2 separate regions of the Homo sapiens genome follow, and region 1 is linked to region 2. Evidence: fine-mapped expression QTL. Tissue or cell type: lung. Region 2 holds a variant in brackets; the other region holds the start of a gene. All regions are shown on one strand. Distances are from middle to middle.

Evidence for each region. PIP is the estimated chance that this variant, and not a neighbour inherited with it, causes the effect.
Region 1: SLC12A7 starts here. The variant in region 2 is fine-mapped to the expression of SLC12A7 in lung (TOPMed, PIP 0.93).

Annotation. Positions count from the first base shown.
Region 1 is chr5:1,107,373-1,115,547 of GRCh38, reverse strand. SLC12A7 (solute carrier family 12 member 7) reads left to right here and starts at 3,485. Exons shown (of 24, transcript NM_006598.3): 1 at 3,485-3,680. The coding sequence starts at 3,557.
Region 2 is chr5:1,138,191-1,146,365 of GRCh38, reverse strand. It overlaps a transcript of SLC12A7 not described here. Among named protein-coding and RNA genes, the nearest start is that of SLC12A7, 30 kb to the right of the region's middle. RefSeq lists an enhancer at 5,029-5,872. The variant T/C (reference allele first, on the strand shown) is at 5,093.

The DNA of each region.
Region 1 (8,175 bases), 31 kb after region 2:
AAGGATGCAGATGGCGCACCAGGAGATGAGCCCCCCACCCTAACAGGAAAGCAGAAGTGGACTGGGGGGACCCGCGGACCTGGGGAGAAGCTCCGTGGGCAGAGGCACACAGATACCTGGAGGCAGCCTGCGTCTGGTGAGAGCCCTCCCAGGCCACAGCCCTGATTCCAAGCCGTGGGCACGAGCGGCCTCCTGGCTTGGAAGCTGGCATTGGGTGTCCGTCCTAATCCATTAGAAACTCCACCCCAGGGTGGCAGGCAGCAGGGACTGTTTCGAGAATCTACACACAGAATGTAACCACCATCGGCTACACTTTCGCACTAAATCCCAGGGTTCCCCTGGCTGTGCCCTGCACACGGCCAAGAGGCCATCGCAGATGACCAGGCTCACATCATAAGGATGCGAGATTGCATTTGAAGAGGCCCCCTGGGCAAAGCTGGACACCGATGCTTGGAAAGGGCACTAATGGTGATCGACTGAGACCCACCAATGTGTTTCATCAGCGATGTACAAATATACTTGGGAGATTGTCGGGAACCAATTCACCGTTGTGGAAACTGACAAATGAGGGAGAGGCACCCTTGCCCTGCCTTTCCTGTGGGCACCATTATCCAGATGGCCAGACGGACAAGATGAGCCTCTCCCTCCAGTGAATTCATGACGAAGCCACCACGCACTGGAAAATCACCATTTTGCTCCATGAATCTGTCGATTCAGACATCAAGCACCAACGACTGCGGACGGAGGAGCTACCACCAGACAGTGCGTGGCTCCCTCTGCGAGCCCCCGGCCTTGCCAGGGGACTGGACCCGGATCCCAGCAGTCCCCTGGCTCCAGGTGCCCACTTCCAGGAGACGCAGAGGCCTGCACCGAAAGATGCAGCTCCAACCCAGGCCTCGGGTACCTCCACGTGTCCGAGGGCCACTTCCTACAACAGGTGCCGGGTACAGAAAAGGACAGAGGGATGGAGGTGGGTAGGAAGAGAGCACTGAAAGTCACACAACGCACATTTAACCCCAGGCTGCCGTGTGGGAGGATATACGTGGACACGGAAACCCACAGAGCGAAGGGAGGGGCCACCAGACCCCTAGGGATGGGCTACTGATGGGATGGGAGGGGCCTGCAGCGGCTTCTGGGCTCCGGCAAGGGTCTCTGTCTTGACCCGCAGGTGCTTACAGGGTGCTGATCCCTGTCGTGACTCACCTGATTAGAATGCAAAAGGCAGCAGACCTCACCCCCCACCCGAGGTCTCCCACAAGTAAGATCTAAGATTTAAACAAGAGAAGCCACCTGCCTTCTGCCTGGCAGGGCTGGGCACCCACCCAGGTGCTTCAGCCATGGCCCCTGGTCCTAGTCAAGATTTTGTAATCACAGAGAAGACCACCCTCGGAGCTGCCACAGGACCCTAAACTCCTGGGCCTCAGTTTCCTCCTCTGTAAAATGAAGCTGATGAGTCCTGAGTCCGGGAGCTGGCCCTGGCCACAGACCCTCCAAACCAGCTCCTCTGAAGGTCCACAGCCAGCACATGGCGGGCAGCCGGCCCTGGGGTCCTGGGGTGTGAAGCAGAGCTTGGATGTGCGACGGGAGCCCTGCACATCTGTTGCTCCTGCTGGCATCACTTGGGAAGGCCTCGTGCCCACCCTGAGCTCTGTCCAACCCTCGGGAATAGCGCTGGGTGGCAACCAGGGTTGAATGTACAGAAGCCCCTGCTGGGGTGACTGAGGAGAGGGTTTACCCAGCACCCTAAGTGTGAACCCTATAATTGACCCCATTGGGCACTTCTGTTCCCACCCCCTGGATCTTTTTAGCAAAGCCAGCCCTCCTCATAAGGATGCCTGGGAACTATTTTATCTTCTGGGGAGGTGATGGTTTCCTACCTTCCAACCCACTGACCCAGGGAGGCAGCTGACCTAGCACCATCCACAGCCCTGAGCTCCCTTTGGTGGGAGGTGGGGTGAGAGTGTGGAGCAGGCACAGCTCCAGACACCCAGGCCAGAGGAACCCCCACCTCTGCAAGGGCTGGTGCTGGATGGGCGACGTTCCAGGAGGGTCCCAGGCCTACAGCTTCTGCCCAGAAGAGTCCATGGGGCAAAGGGGTAGAACCCTAGGCCACCCCAGGGCATGACTGGCTTTACTGGAAATGGCTGGAGAGGTTGGGCTTGCGTTCCTTGAACCCACAGAGCCCGGTGATCCCACAGCCCGGAGGCCATCACTCCCCTCCAGCTGCCTTTTAGGATTAGACAGGCAAGCGGCTAAAACATGGCCAGGCCATACCCATTTTCCACGTGACAAGAGGCTGTGGCCGTGTTTGCCCACACCACCTGTGTTTCTGCTTTGTTGTCGTACAGCAGTTGTGGGTGATTAGGAATAAAGGCTGACTCATTGCACCTGTGTGCCATAGCATTTTAGCCCAATTCCCCATTGACGGACATCTGATTGTTCCGTTTTTCATGAGTCATTTGTTGAGAAATGTGCCAGGTGCTGGCCGGTGGTATCCTGGTGTCTGCCTGGTGGGTTCTGGAACTCCACCTTCCCTGCATCACCCTGTGAGCTTCTGGAACATTTCCCAAGGAGGGAAGGGAGGGTTCTAGGGCAGGGGCCGCGGGGCACTCCTGGGGCAGGTGTGGAGGAGACTGGGGTCTTCGTGGGTGGTATTTGTCATGGGTGGGGGGGGGGACTCCCTCTACTGGGTTAGGTCCCTAAACTGGAGCTGGACCAAGCTCCGGAGTACCCCACCCCCAGGCTATCCAAGGCTCCTTCCACTGGAGTTGCCTTTGCAGCCAGGTTGGGCTAGCCAGGAGCCAGGCTAGGAGCCCAGGGTCTGAGCGGGTGTTGACAGCCTGGAGTGGGTGGGCGGACTGTGTGGGAGGTGGGTGCTGGAGGATGGCAGGGGGGAACAGGAGGGGGAAGAAGGAGGGGTAGGGGGCTGGAGCAGGAAATGGGGGGCAAACAGGAGGGGGTGCGGGAGGGGGCGCAGAAGGAGGAGGGGCCCAGCAGGAGGGGGTGCAGAAAGGGCAGGGGTTCCAGCAGGAGGGGGTTCATAGGGGCAGGGGGGCCCAGCAGGAGGGGGTGCAGGAAGGGTGGGGGGGTGCAGGAGGGGTGAGGGGTTCCAGCAGAAGGGCGTGCAGGAGGGGCAGGGGGCTGGAGCAGGAGTGGGGGGTCGGGGAAGGGGACAAGAGGGGAGGCGGGGAGGGGGCCGGGGAGGGCGGGGAGGGCGGGGAGTTCCAGCAGGAGGGGCAGGGGGCTGGAGCAGGAGGGGGTGCAGGAGACTGAGCGGGGATTCGCGGGCTCTGCGATGGTCGGGAGCGCAGGCAGCGAAAGCCCCGCGTCCCGGGTCGCGGCGGTCAGACAGACGCAGCCTGGGTTGGGGTCCCTGCAGGAAGTCGCCGCGGGCCAACTTTTCGTGGGGCCGCGGGGCAAGCAGGTGAAGTCACGTGGCCCGGGCGGGGCGGGGCGGCTCGGTCGGACCCCGCCCCTGCCTCCAAGTCCCGTGGCGTCGGCGGGAGCGGCGCAGCGCGGGCCGGGCCGGGACGGGGACTGTCGGCTGCAGGCGGCCATGCCCACCAACTTCACCGTGGTGCCCGTGGAGGCTCACGCCGACGGCGGCGGGGACGAGACTGCCGAGCGGACGGAGGCTCCGGGCACCCCCGAGGGCCCCGAGCCCGAGCGCCCCAGCCCGGGTGAGCGCGGCCGCACCTGGCCGGACAAAGGCCGAGCGCCCCGAGCGCGGGTCTGGGCCCGGCATCCGGGAGCGGAGGCGGGCGGCGGGGCCGGGGGTACAGGAGGCGCCCCTTCCCGCGCCCCCACCGCCTGTTCTCGGTCCCCCACGAGGGCCCCCACCCCACGTTAGTGGCAGCGCTAGGGGGCGAGGGGCCCTGCCAGGGCTCCCGGTACGGTCAGCTCGGGTGGGACCGGGGGCAGAGGTGTGGACGCCGCTGCTGGTAGCCATGGAAACGGGGAGGGGCTGGAGCGCGCCTCCGGAGGGAGCCCGGGCCCCTGGGTGGTCCCTAGTGGGACAGGGGTGGCGGTGGAGACCCGGGCGGTTCGGGAGCCGGGGCGTCCTGCGTCCCCCGCGCTCTCCCTTCCCCTGCGCCGCGGCCGTCCGGTAACACTAGCCCGGGCCGGCCCGTCCTGCCCCCGCCTGACCCTGGAGGAGCCGCCCACCCCCCAGAGGCGGAACAGGAAGGACTGCGCCCTGGCTGGGGAGGGGGCAGCCACCGGGGCCTTGCTCAGGCCGCGTCCTCCGTGTTCCCGTCCCCCGTTCCGGGAATCTGGAGGTTTCTAGCACTTTCACTTTCTCTAGGGGGTGGGGACGGGGCTGGGGAGAGAATCCCCCAGCCCTGTTCCCTCCATCCTGGCTCCAAATCCCAGTTACTCCCCGGATCTCAGCCCCCTCTAGAAACCGGAGGCTCTTAGGCCCTTCCATCCGGAGTCTCTGAGAAGGTGTCCGGACTCAGTCCAGCCCCCACCCCGCGTGCTGGCAGTGCCCGCATGTGCCCGGGTCTCATGCAGTGGGTGGCAGCCTCCCTGCTCCCTGGCAGTGGAAGGAAGGTGAGGTCTGTCCAGGGACAAGTCCGGTGCCAGACCCCAGATCCTTCCTAACCCACCATCCCGGGCAGGAAAGGCCAGACATCCCCTCCAGGCAGTTTAGGAACCCGGAGACACGGGTGGGGACCCACCGTGAAGGCAGTGGCCTGGTGGCCTGGGGTGCGTCATCAGGGTCCCCGTGGCGGGCGAAGAGTGGTCTCAGCTTCCTCTGCACAGAGGCCAGCCCAGATCTTGGAAGTGGTCAGGCGGGGCGCCAGGCTCAACACCAGGTGAAGTGCTAACTAAGCAGGGTCCGTGAGTCCAAGCCCCTTCTCTCCAGTCACCACCGTGGAGGCAGGAAGCACCAAGGAGTGTGGGCCCTGGCGTGGTCTTTCTGTGTGAGCTTTGTAGCAACGCCCCCGGAACGCACTCAGAAGGAGCCTCTTCTTGTCTGGCCGGCCCCTTCTCAAGGCTGATCAGGTTCACTTTTGTCTTTAGACTGTAAGTGTCATTTGCTTTTAAGCCAGAGAGAATTTTGTGCTTGTTCGTTTTCTTGTCTCTTCTACTCTCAAGGCTGTTGAGCAGTGCCCTGGGCCTGTGTCTGCCCAGCAGGAAGTGGCCCTGGCTGAGCGCTGCCCATGTCGCTGCCCGCGCACTCAGGTCCTGCTACGGGCGTGTCAGGAGGCTCCCTGGCCTTCATGAAATTGAGAACGGGAGGGCATGGGCCAGGTGTGGGCTTCTGGACACTTTTGAGGGTGGCCCTGTGGTGTGAGCTGAACTTGGGAGATTTCTCCGAACTGGCAGAGAACTTGCACCTGGCGCTTTTGTGCTGGACCCGCTTCCTACTTCCACAGAAAGGGCCCGGTGCCCAGCCACTGCCAGGCTGTAACGGGCACGCAGCTGCCCTTCGGAATCCACTTGATCACATCCTGATCTTCAGCCCACAGAGGTGCGGCGAGGAGTCCCGTGATGGGCACGGAGCCTGGGGAAGGAGGCACAGGCTTTGCTTTTTGGTGGTGGTTGGGGGCGGGGGTCCTGCAGAAGCCGGAGCCCCTCCCAAAGGCCTTCTGTGTGGGGTCCACACCACAAGGTCACAGGCCAGGTCCAAAACTGTCCGGCCACAGAGTTACCAGCACCCAAGCTCTTCCTGACTCCATTGCCGTTCCCCTGAACGGTCTGTGGAGGTACTGGAGCTTCTGGGCTGGCGCCTGGGTGACGGCGAAGCAAGTTTGGGGGGCCTGGTGGGCTGATCCTAGGCACTGCCAGGTGGGCGTGGAGAGGGCGTCCTGAGCCACCCCAACTTGAGGAGCAGGGGCCTTGGTGTCCCCAGCCTGGGTTGGGGGGTTCTGGGGAAAGAGGGGTAGATGCTGCTGCCCGGGCTGCCTGGCTCGACCCAGAGCCCAGCAAGGCCGCGTCTGCCCAGCCTGGCTCCAGGGGCCTTCTGTCCCCGACCCCTGCAGCTTCCCTGCTGCTTCTGGTGGAGCCTCTGCGGGAGGCGTCCTGTCCCGGGGATGGGCACTGTGCCCTCAGCACTTCTTGGGACGGAGCTTTTATTCTTATGTGAAATACCTCGTCTTGAAATGAGAAGGACGTGTTAACCCTCAGTTTCTCAGTGGGGTGGTTTTTTGAGAGTAGGAGGTGGGAGGACACTGCTGGGGGCCGGCTGCGTCTCGTCCGACTTCAGGGTAGAGTGGGTTTTGTAACTGACTTGGGGGAGCCCACCCTTCCTCCGTGACCACATCAGGGTAGACTCACTCCTTCCCAGGTTGTAGGGGTGCGTCCAGAGGCCTCGGAGACCCTGGGAGGGGTGGGAAAGGAGGGCTGGCCAGTGCCCCGGCCTGTCTGGAAGGTGCAGCGTGCAGAGCCTCTGTCAAGGTCCCACAGGCCCTGGCCACCCACTGTCTAGGAGGGACTTCCACTCGTCTGGGGCTCCCTGGGCTGGGAGAGGGTGGGTCCTGCCTTGTACCCCCAGGTCTCCCACCCTCAGCTGGGGCTCTCCCAGGTTTGCCGGGAGCTTCTTCCTGGCTTGGGCGCCACTTCCCTCTTTGGGTTCCGTTTCTGAGATTTTCCACTGTGGCTGAGCTCGTGTCGGTTGTCCAGGGGCGGTCCTGCCTCCCTCTGCCCCTGGCCGCTGACAGAGGCCCGGTTGCGTGGTCAGTGGCCTGCCCGTCCCTCCTGCTCCAACTACCTACCGTGTCCGTGTTGGGAGCCCCCTCCCAAAATCTGAGGACAGCTAGAGCTGCCGCTTTGTCCTGGGCCGTCCTCGCCTGTCGGGTGCTGGGTGCCATGCTCTGCACTGCCCTTGGGAATGGCGAGACGGTGCACGCCGGTCGTGCTGATCTGGGGTCCCCTTTGGGGATGCAGGGACTTGGGGGATCACGCATTAGATAGGGGGACCACACACAGAGCGTCCAGGTTCTGTCCTGCCGAGTAGGGACAGAGAGCTCTCGTTGTGCCCAGATTTCAGGAGGGCGTTCCCGACACGGACATGGGAGGCAGTCGGAGCAGGAGGGACAGGCAGGCTGTTGACCCCGCGGCTGTGCCCGGGAGCCCCTGCAGCAGCTGGGCACTGCGTTGCGGGAACGGAAGGTCATGGGTATGTGGTGAGCAGGCAGGGAGGCTACAAGACATGCATTTTGTGTATCGAGTTCCCTTTTTAAAACCAAAGGAAACAAGATACACAGGAACGCCGTGGCTGCTGGGCATCCAGGCCGGGGCCTGTGCTTCCTCCTGCGCCTGACATACTCCCAGGCTGTCTCCCGGCAAGAGGCTCTCCTTAGCAGGCATGCGGTAAAGCATGGTGCTTTAGGTCAGCTGGCCGGGTCCATGTGTGCGGGCACCTATGTGCCTTGTGAGCGTGCAGGTGTATCCACGTGTGAGCCATGTGCTTGCACTGTGTATATGTGCACATATATGTACACACGTGTGCATACATGTGTACTGTGCTCTTGCACAGCTGTGTGCTGTGGGCATGCTCACGTGTGTGTGTGTATGTGTGTGTTTGTATGCTGTGGCAGGTAGAGAGGGGCTGGGGCTTCCTCCACAGCAGAGGGTCACGCGGTGTTGGGTGTTGGGTATCCGTTCCCTCCCCCTGGTCTAGGCCCATCAGTGAGTGGTGAGGGGCTCCCTCTCCTGGTGTGGCCTCGTGTTCAGGTCTGAACCTGCTCCTGGGCCTCTGATCATATGAGGAGACCTTTGCCTCGTGGACTCAGGTTCATGGTTTCCTCTTCTGCAAAGCTCCCCAGGCTTCTCTGAGTGGGCGAGGCCAAACGGATTCCACGGTGGTTTTCTGTCTAGCGTTGGACACCAGATCCCCTTCTTAGAGTGCGTGGCTTTCTCAGTGCCTCTCCCGTGGTCTGGATGGCTGTCGGGAAGGTGGTGCCAAGGGGAGGGCCAGGTGCTCAGGCCTGGGTGCAGGGCGGCTGGTCGGGGCCGAAGTCACACAGGTTTGCTGGGGATCGGTGAATGTCGGAGACCTTGCCAGGTGGTGGCTGGAGTCAAGCAGAGGCACCTGAGGGACCCTGAGGGTGAGTTGGGGGCTGTCCTCCCCTCATGCCCGGCAGTGAGTGGGCCGTGGAGTGAGGCCACCTCTGTCAGGGCCTCTGCCCTTTGGACGTGGGGCCACGTCCTACACAGCTCCCTGGACCT
Region 2 (8,175 bases):
CCCAGGCCTGGAGGTCCGTGGTCACTGGCCCAGGTGGTCACCTCCAGGGGTCACCAGCATCTGGGCTCCCACAACTCCACTCCAAAAGCCCACCTGCTGGCAGGTCCCTGAGGTCTCATCACAGACCTGGAGACTCTCCCAGAGGAGCCTCAAGAAGGTGGGTGACCAGGGAATGGCCCCTCCTGCTGGGAGCAGGTTCCAGGGAGAGCCTTTGGGAATGAGGAGGGATGGGGCAGCCAGACACAGAAAGGTCAATCCTGCAGAATAACAGTTGCAGGCAGAGCCTGGAGTTGTCAAATTCTGGGAGACGGAGGCAGAACGGGGACTGCCAGGGGCTGGGGGAGGGGAATGGGAGTCAGTTTAATGGGTGCAGAGCTGCAGTTTTGCAAAGGAAGTTCTGGAGAAGGATGGCGGTGATGGTTTTACAGCATTGTGACTGCATTTAATGCCACTGAACTGCTCACCCAAAAATGGTAAAAATGGTAAAATGTTATGTGTATTTTATCACAATACAAAAAATACCAAAAAGAAAATGCAAGCAGACAGTAGGGGCCTAGAGATAAACTAAACCCTCCCGCACCCCCAGCCCCTTCCTTCTGCAGAGGACAGAGGCGCTTGATCCTGGCCTCTAGTTTTCTGAGAGGAGGCCAGTTTGATTAAATCAATTCACACCTAGGCAGGCTCTCCAGGGAGGGGGTCCTGTTTAATCTAAATTACTCTCTGCAAGGTGCTCTTTCAGGCCTCTTGGAAGAGATATTTTTGTCCAGGGACCTTCCTGTTTCAAATAACATCCTTTGTGAGCCCTTCCTGGCTGGTCCTGGAAAGGTCAGTGAAGGGGCTGGCAGCCTCTGACTTCCTGTGGGCAGATTCCAGGAAGGGGCAGCAAGCCTGGCCGCTAGGCAGCCTGCAGCCTCCGATGGCTCCTCAGTGCTCCAAGAGCAAGCACCTGGCCGCAATTACCCCGCTGGGCACTCGGGGCTTCTGCAGGGGCACCTCAGCTGGGAATTAGGGGGAGGGGTGACCACCCCAGCAGCTGTGTCCCCACAGGGAGGGGGTCTGCGGAACCGGCCATCATTTACTGCACAGACCGTGTGATGGACATGAGCCCTCGCTGGTCTTCCAGGCCCACTGGCAGCGGCCCCTGCCTGGCCCTTGTGGCCACTCACTGTCCTGTCTCCAGAGACCCCACACCCAAGTGTGAGGGCCGAGTTCTCGGCCAGGTTCCCTTTGAAGAAGGGGTGATCCCTGGGCCCCCTGCGGCCTCCAGCTGCTGTCCCACGCAGGCTCTCTCCAGCCCTCCAGGCCCGGCCTGGCCGTGCCGACAGCACATGCTCCTTCCCCAGCCCCGGCCCGGTTGGTCCAGTGGTGCTGGCTGCTGCTGTGGGTGCTGCACTTCCTTCCTCGGATGCAGTAAACTTCACGTTTTGCCTCAGGACGTTCCGAATCAGCCATGGGAATTGAACACTGGTTTAAAGCCACATTGGTGTCATCCCTGCTTTCTGCCGCTCGGAGGCCTGTGCATGCGCAGCCGGGATGGCAGTGGCCCCTGTTTATTCAGACGGGCATTTCAGCAGGGCTGGAACTCAGAGACACACCTGGTTCTAGTCTTTGCTTCCTTGCCTGTAATTTTCTCACATGTCCCCACTGCAGCCTGGTGATCTGTTGGTCTGGAAGTGGTACAGGTGTTAATGGATAAATAGCTGTACTCAATTGTAAAGTGTGGTGCGGTCCGCTGGTTTGAGGGGTCATTTTCAAGGCGGGTGCCCACCAGGCTGCCTGCCTCACCAGCTCACCATGACCCAGCGTGACCTCACCGTGCCCTCCACCCAGCGTGACCCGGAGCTGAGGGCTCCTCCCGTTCCACAGTTGAATTCCTGCCCCCAAATTGTCATGATGATGCTGGGACCAAGAACAGGTGGGTGGGGGCAGTGGCGGCGGCCTGGGAGCAACTGGTTTAAAGCTGGAGTGAAAACCCTGACTCTCCAGGATCTCGTTCAAAGGGGCCACTCCTTGTCGGAGCTGCCCTGAGCTGCCCTGGCAGAGCAAGGCCCTGGCGTGGAGCCCGGGACGTGGGCCCCTGCCTTGTGGGAGCTTGGGCATGGCGTAAGCCCCAGACACCATCCTCTCCCGCCACCCGGCGCTGCGCCGGCCAACTTCCCCTCCCTGAGGTTGGCGGGTGCGTCCAGGTCCCCTCCCTGAGGTTGGTGGGTGCGTCCACGTCCTCTCCCTGAGGGTGGTGGGTGCGTCCAGGTCCCCTCTCTGAGGTTGGCGGGTGTGCCCCTCCCTGCAGGGCTGTTCGCCCCCTCCCTATTTCTTGGTTCTGGGCTGCAGTCTTAGAACACACTGGTGACAGCCGCCCGAGCCAGCCAGGGGTAGGAGGGCAGGGTGCCCAAGAGGCCAGGTTTCCCAGCGCCAGGGTGCCCAGGAGGCCAGGTTTCCCAGCGCCAGGGTGCCCAGGAGGCCAGGTTTCCCAGCGCCAGGGTGCCCAGGAGGCCAGGGTGCCAAGCGCCAGGGTGCCCAGGAGGCCAGGGTGCCCAGCACTCTGCCCGAGAGTGTCTGCTGGCCCCGGTGCAGCCACGGGTTTGCTGGTTGGTACTGAGGAAGGTGCAGGGCTTGCAGAGGGGACTGGGCAGGTCACATGTCTGAAGCTCAGCAGTGGGTGGCAGCGCTCTGGGTGAAGAAGCAGCACCAGGACACAGGGAGAACCCTGGGAAGGTCAGTGGAGGCGCATGCAGGACACAGACAGCTGCCGACTGAGTCGTGCCCCCAGATTCGCAGCTGAGGCCCAGCCCCAACGGGACTGTATCTGGAGCTAGGACCTTGAGGGAGGGACTTAAGGTTAAATGAGGTTGTGAGGAAGGCCCTGACCCAATAGGACGTGTCCTTGTAAGAAGAGAAAGCGACACCAGGGATGCGTGTGTGCAGAGGAGCGGCCGTGGGAGGACACAGGAGAAGCCACCGTCTGCGGGCCATGAATAGGCCTTGGGAGAAACCGCCCAGCAGCCCCTTGGTCTGGGACTTCCAGCCCCCAGGCTGCGAGGGAACAATTTCTAGTGTTGAAGCCCCCGCCCATGGCGCTTTGTTACAATTGCTGGAGCTGATGAGGCCGGTCTTACACTTGCCCCTTATCCGACAGGACTGGCACCAGCGCTGCGGGAGGTGGCGGGATGTCGGGAAGCTCCGGTCTTGGGAAATGCCACCTTCCGCAGGTGATCCTTGAGCTGCGGCTTCTGACCCTGCGGATGGAGGGGCATGTTGCCCAGGAGGCTGTGTTGGGGCCCTCAGGGAAGGAAGGCCCGTGTCACAGATGGAGCCGTAAGCTCTGTGGTGCCCGGCACGGGAACAAGCCTTCTTTGGCCGCCTCTCAGCCCCCGTTACCATGAATACCGGGGCCCGGGGCCTGGGGCCCAGGGCCCAGTGCCCTCCCAGGATGGAGAATGGGCCAGGAAAGTCCATTTCCTCTTCTGCTGACCTACTCCCCCTTACCTCCCCTGAGTTCTGAGCACGTTGCCCAAAGAACAGGGGCTCTGAGTGAGTTTGGGATTGGAGGGGAGGGGTGTGTATGGGGGGGGCAGCTGATGGTCACGGGTATTCTAGGGGGAAGATGTGGGGAGGGCCGTGAGCACCTCCTGCCTGGAGTTCTGGGCAGTGGCTCAGGAAGAGGGGAGGGGGACAGAGAGAGACACAGAGACAGAGACAGAGAGACAGGGAGACAGAGACAGCCAGACAGAGACAGCGAGAGACAGAGACACAGAGACAGAAAAACAGACAGAGACAGATGGACAGAGACAGAAAGAGAGACAGAGAGAGAGACACACACAGAGAAGCAGAGAACAGGGAAGAGAGGGGAGAGGGGAGAGAGGGGAGTGGGGAGGGGAAAGGGGAGGGGGAGGGGAGGGGGGAGTGGAGGGCAGAGAGGGGAGGGGACAGCGAAGATGAGAGAGTGAGGAGGGGAGAGGGGAAAGGGGAGAAGGGAGAGGGGAGACAGGAGAGGGTGGAGGGGAGAGGGGAGAGGGAAGAGGGGAGAGGGGAGAGGAGAGAGGGGAGAGGGGAGACGGGAGGGGCGAGGGGGGAGGGGAGAGGGGAGAGAGGGGACAGGAGACGGGGGAGGTTTTCTTCCTCCTGATTATGGGGGCACCAGGGCTTATAGGGCTGGGCTGCCCCTGCCCTGTGGAGCGTCTGGGCTCTGTATGGAGGGGCCCTGTCTGGGGCCCAGAGATGCTGCCAGGGGTGGCCGGGTGAACTGACTGCGGCCCAGTGCAGCTCTGGGGAGGGGAGTGGCCACCCTGACGCCACCTGCCCCGCCTCTAGCACCAGAAGCAAAGGTGGAGGCCAGGAAGCCCCGGGAAGTCCTGCAGGGCTGCAGGGAAGAGGGGTATCTCTAAGCAACAGCCACAGTTGGTGGCTGGGAGCACTTCAGACTCCACATGACCAGGTCTGATCCTGCCAGCAGCACCCATGATAATGGTGACTTGGGCAAAATGAAAGTTCACTTCTCCCTCACTAAGCATTTTGTTCTGAATTTGTTCATCTGTTGATCTGTCCCGGCGAACCCTCTTGTCTCTGCCTGAGTGTCCAGTGGCCTCTCTGCACCAACGGAGTTATTCCTTGTCCACGCTGTCCTATGCAGCAGCCACCGGCCACATGTGGCTATCGGCACTTGAGCTGTAGCTGCTGTGGCTGAGGACCTGGATTCTTCATTTTTTAAAAAAAATTTTAACTTAAATATAAACTTCAGTGACCACACAAGCTTAGTGGCTGCTGTCCCAGTGAGGTCTGGGTGCTGAGGACACAGTGGGGAAGACAGTCCCCAGGGAGCCTCCATCCCAGGAGATACAGAAAACAAGCCAGGGGAGAGCACAGAGAGGGAGGCAGGGACAGCTGTGGTGCCCGTGGCGGCTCTGGTGCCCATGGCGGCTGTGGTGCCCGTGGCAGCAGGGACGGCTGGGACAGCCAAGTTACAGGCTCAGTGACATCTCTCCATTAGGACTGGGAGAGGACTGGGGGTCCTACTGCCTAGCACTTGAGAATGTGATGGTATTGGGAGGGAGCTGTTTGCAGAGGTCATCAAGTGACAGCTCACAGGGGTGCA[T/C]CCTAATTCAATATAACGGGTGTCCTTATTAAAAGGGGGAATTTGGACACAGAAATAGACACTCACAGAGCAGGGACGATACAGAGACACAGGGAGAAGCTGGGGCCTGCAAGCCAAGAAGAGGCCGGAACCGGTGCCCGCCTACAGCTCAGGGGAGCAGCCCAGCCACACACTGACCTGGGACTTCAGGCCCGAGGCTTCGAGACGTGTCTGTGGTGTGCACAGCCTGGCTGCACTCATTTCCACAGCGGCCCGAGCGTATTGGTATAAACGTCCCGTGTCCACCCTCCCCCTCAGCCTGGCTGCTCTGAACTGGCCCAGGCCCAGCTTGCCCACCTTGGCTGCAGCCCCCAACGGCTCTGCCTCATGCTGAGCCTCCCAAGGGGTTCCCCTCAGAACATTCTCCCATGGCGTGGTCACCTAGAAGCTACTCCGAGCTGTCATGCCGGTGCAGTGACCACATCCCTCCCCAGCCAGTGCTTGTCAATGGCCCTCCTGGGTGAATCTCCCTTCCCTGCACCCCCTCCGCCAGCCACCTGAGCCCTCCCCGGGGCCCTGGGCTCCGCCCTTGCGCCTCTCGTTGCCTGGTGAGCAGAGCTTTCTTGTCCCACTGGAGTAGAGAGCGTGGAGCCAGCGGTGCGAGTTCCTGAGCACGGGGAACTCCGGGATTGCTGGGCATGCTGGCACCGTCCTGAACCCCATCTCCCTGTTTACAGAATGACGCCTCCCTCCAGGGACAGCTGTGGGGAGGGGAAGCCAGCAGGGAGCACCCCCCCTCACCAGCAGGGGGCACCCACTCACCAGCAGGGAGCACCGCCTCGCTGGAGCTGCACCTGTTTCCTCCTCCCCTGCTTACCAGTGTCTTCCAGACCCGGTGGGGGGGAACAGAACCGAGGGAGATGGAGACGCAGGTGTGGCTGTGTGTGCAGATTGGCGGTCAGGATTCACCCGAGGGGCCATGGGGATCACATGCCTCATCGCCTGGGATGTGCTGGCTGGGGCAGGGCCACCTTTCTCAGGAGGGGGATCTGCCTGGGTTCCCATGGGGCCCTGCTCCCTGCATGCAGGTGGGCCGGGGCTGCAGCGGCTGGTACGAGACAGCCAGCCAGCGATGGGAAACAGCGTTTCTGGGGGGCCTTCTGAGGGCAGGACGGCGCCTCTGGGGTGCTGGTTGAGGCCAAGGCGGTGGTGCCTGGTCACCGACCTCGGAGCGTTTGATGCCCTGAGACCTGGGATGCTCTGGGAGACAGAGGTGCAGGCCGGGCGTGTCCTGACACCTTCCAGCATGTCCCGGCCTGGTCCGCATCTGTGACCACAGAGGTCTTCTTGGCACTTCTTGGGATCAGAGCCCTGAGGCCCATGCATCCGGAAACGCCGTTTGGAGATGTGGAAAGTCCCTTTTGACTCACAAAATCTGCCTTTGTCTCAGCAAGTGTCCCAGAACCGTGGGGACGTAGTGGCCCTAGACTGGGAAGTGGGGCTCGGGAACCAGATTCAGAATTACTCACCTTCCCCAAAGACACGGGGCCTGCCGGGAGGAGGGACGTGGGTCACAAAAGTGGGCCGTGGCCACCCCAGGGTCAAGCAAGCTCGCCGTGTGCACTCGGGGAAGGCAGGCTGTGCGGACGCCTACAGAGGAACATGGGGGCCACTCTGCCTCCTGTTTCCCGGCACCCACACCCGCTAGGGCCACTGCCCAAACAGTTCTCGAGGCAACCTCGGTTCCAGGTTCCGGCATGTGGCACCATTGCTGCTGTGTGGACACCACCCCTCAGAGAAGGCCAAGCCGGCAAGGCCCAGGCAGTGTCAACCGCCCCAGCTCCCAGAACCGCATCTGTCAGGCTGAGCCGCCTCTTGGTTTGGGGCCCAGGGCCCTCGTGAGGATGTAGCTGAGCACCAGCTGCATTTGCCTGGAGTGGTTCCTGCCTTCCAGGGGCTGCTCCCCACCAGGGCTGGGCTTGGGTGCAGGCACTGGGGCCGCACGTCCTGGGGAGATGCTGTTACCAGCGAGGGTCCCCCGCCAGGATCCCAGCCGGCTGCCGTGGAGGCCAAGGGCTCACACTTTCCCCCTTCCTCTTGCCTACGGACCATGAGGACTCAGCAGCCACCTGGTGGGCTACGCCCATGGGGATGAGGAGGGAGCCCAGCTGTGGGGACCATCGGAGGCTCCCAAAGTGCACCTGCTGCCGCCCAGAGCCCCCCCCCCACCCCAAGCTTGGGTGAGGGGCGACCCCTGCAGCTGTTTCAAAGTCAAGACTTCAGCTTGCTCTCCTTTCAGAGGCCTGGGTGGTGGGTGCAGGTCCAAGGCTTCTGGCCAGTGCCCTGGAGTCGAGTATCCCCGGCTCACCTCAGGGCACATGTTAGGACCCAGCATGTGTTAAGGACCTGGTAGAAAGCTGTGTGTTGCAGTTGAACAGACACCCTGGGGCTCCCACTGTGCACACAGGGCTGTGTCGGGCAGTGGGGCTTAGCTTCCTGGGCCTCTCTCTGGAGCCCAAGTCCTTCTAAGTTTGGACCTTGATCCTGTTTTGGTTTCAAGGTTTGTAGTAAACTAAACGGTGGCCTCCAAAGAGCTACATCTATGTCCTGATTCCTGGAACCCGAGAATATGACCTTATTTGGAAAAGAATCTTTGCATGTGGGGTAAAGATCTCCAGCTGAAGTCGCCCCAGTTTATGTGAGCGGGCTCTAAGCCCACTGGCAAATCAGAAACAGACGAGGAGAGAGGCACACAGAGGAGGAGGCCCTATGAGGTTGAGAGGTGAAGCCCGCTGGGCCTCTGGGTAGGGTGGGGACTTGTAGAACTTTTCTGTCTAGCTAAAGGATTGTAAACACACCAATGAGCAGCTCTGTGTGTAGCTAAAGGTTTGTAAATGCACCAATCAGCACTCTGTAAAAATGGAGCAATCAGCACTCTGTAAAATGAACCAATCAGTGTTCTGTAAAATGGACCAATCAGCAGGATGTGGGTGGGGTCAAATAAGGGAATAAAAGCCGCCCTGCCCTGCCCCACCCCGCCGGCAGTGGGTGGTGCCCTGGGGTTCATTTCAATGATGTGGAAGGTTTGTGTTTTTTTCCGCTTT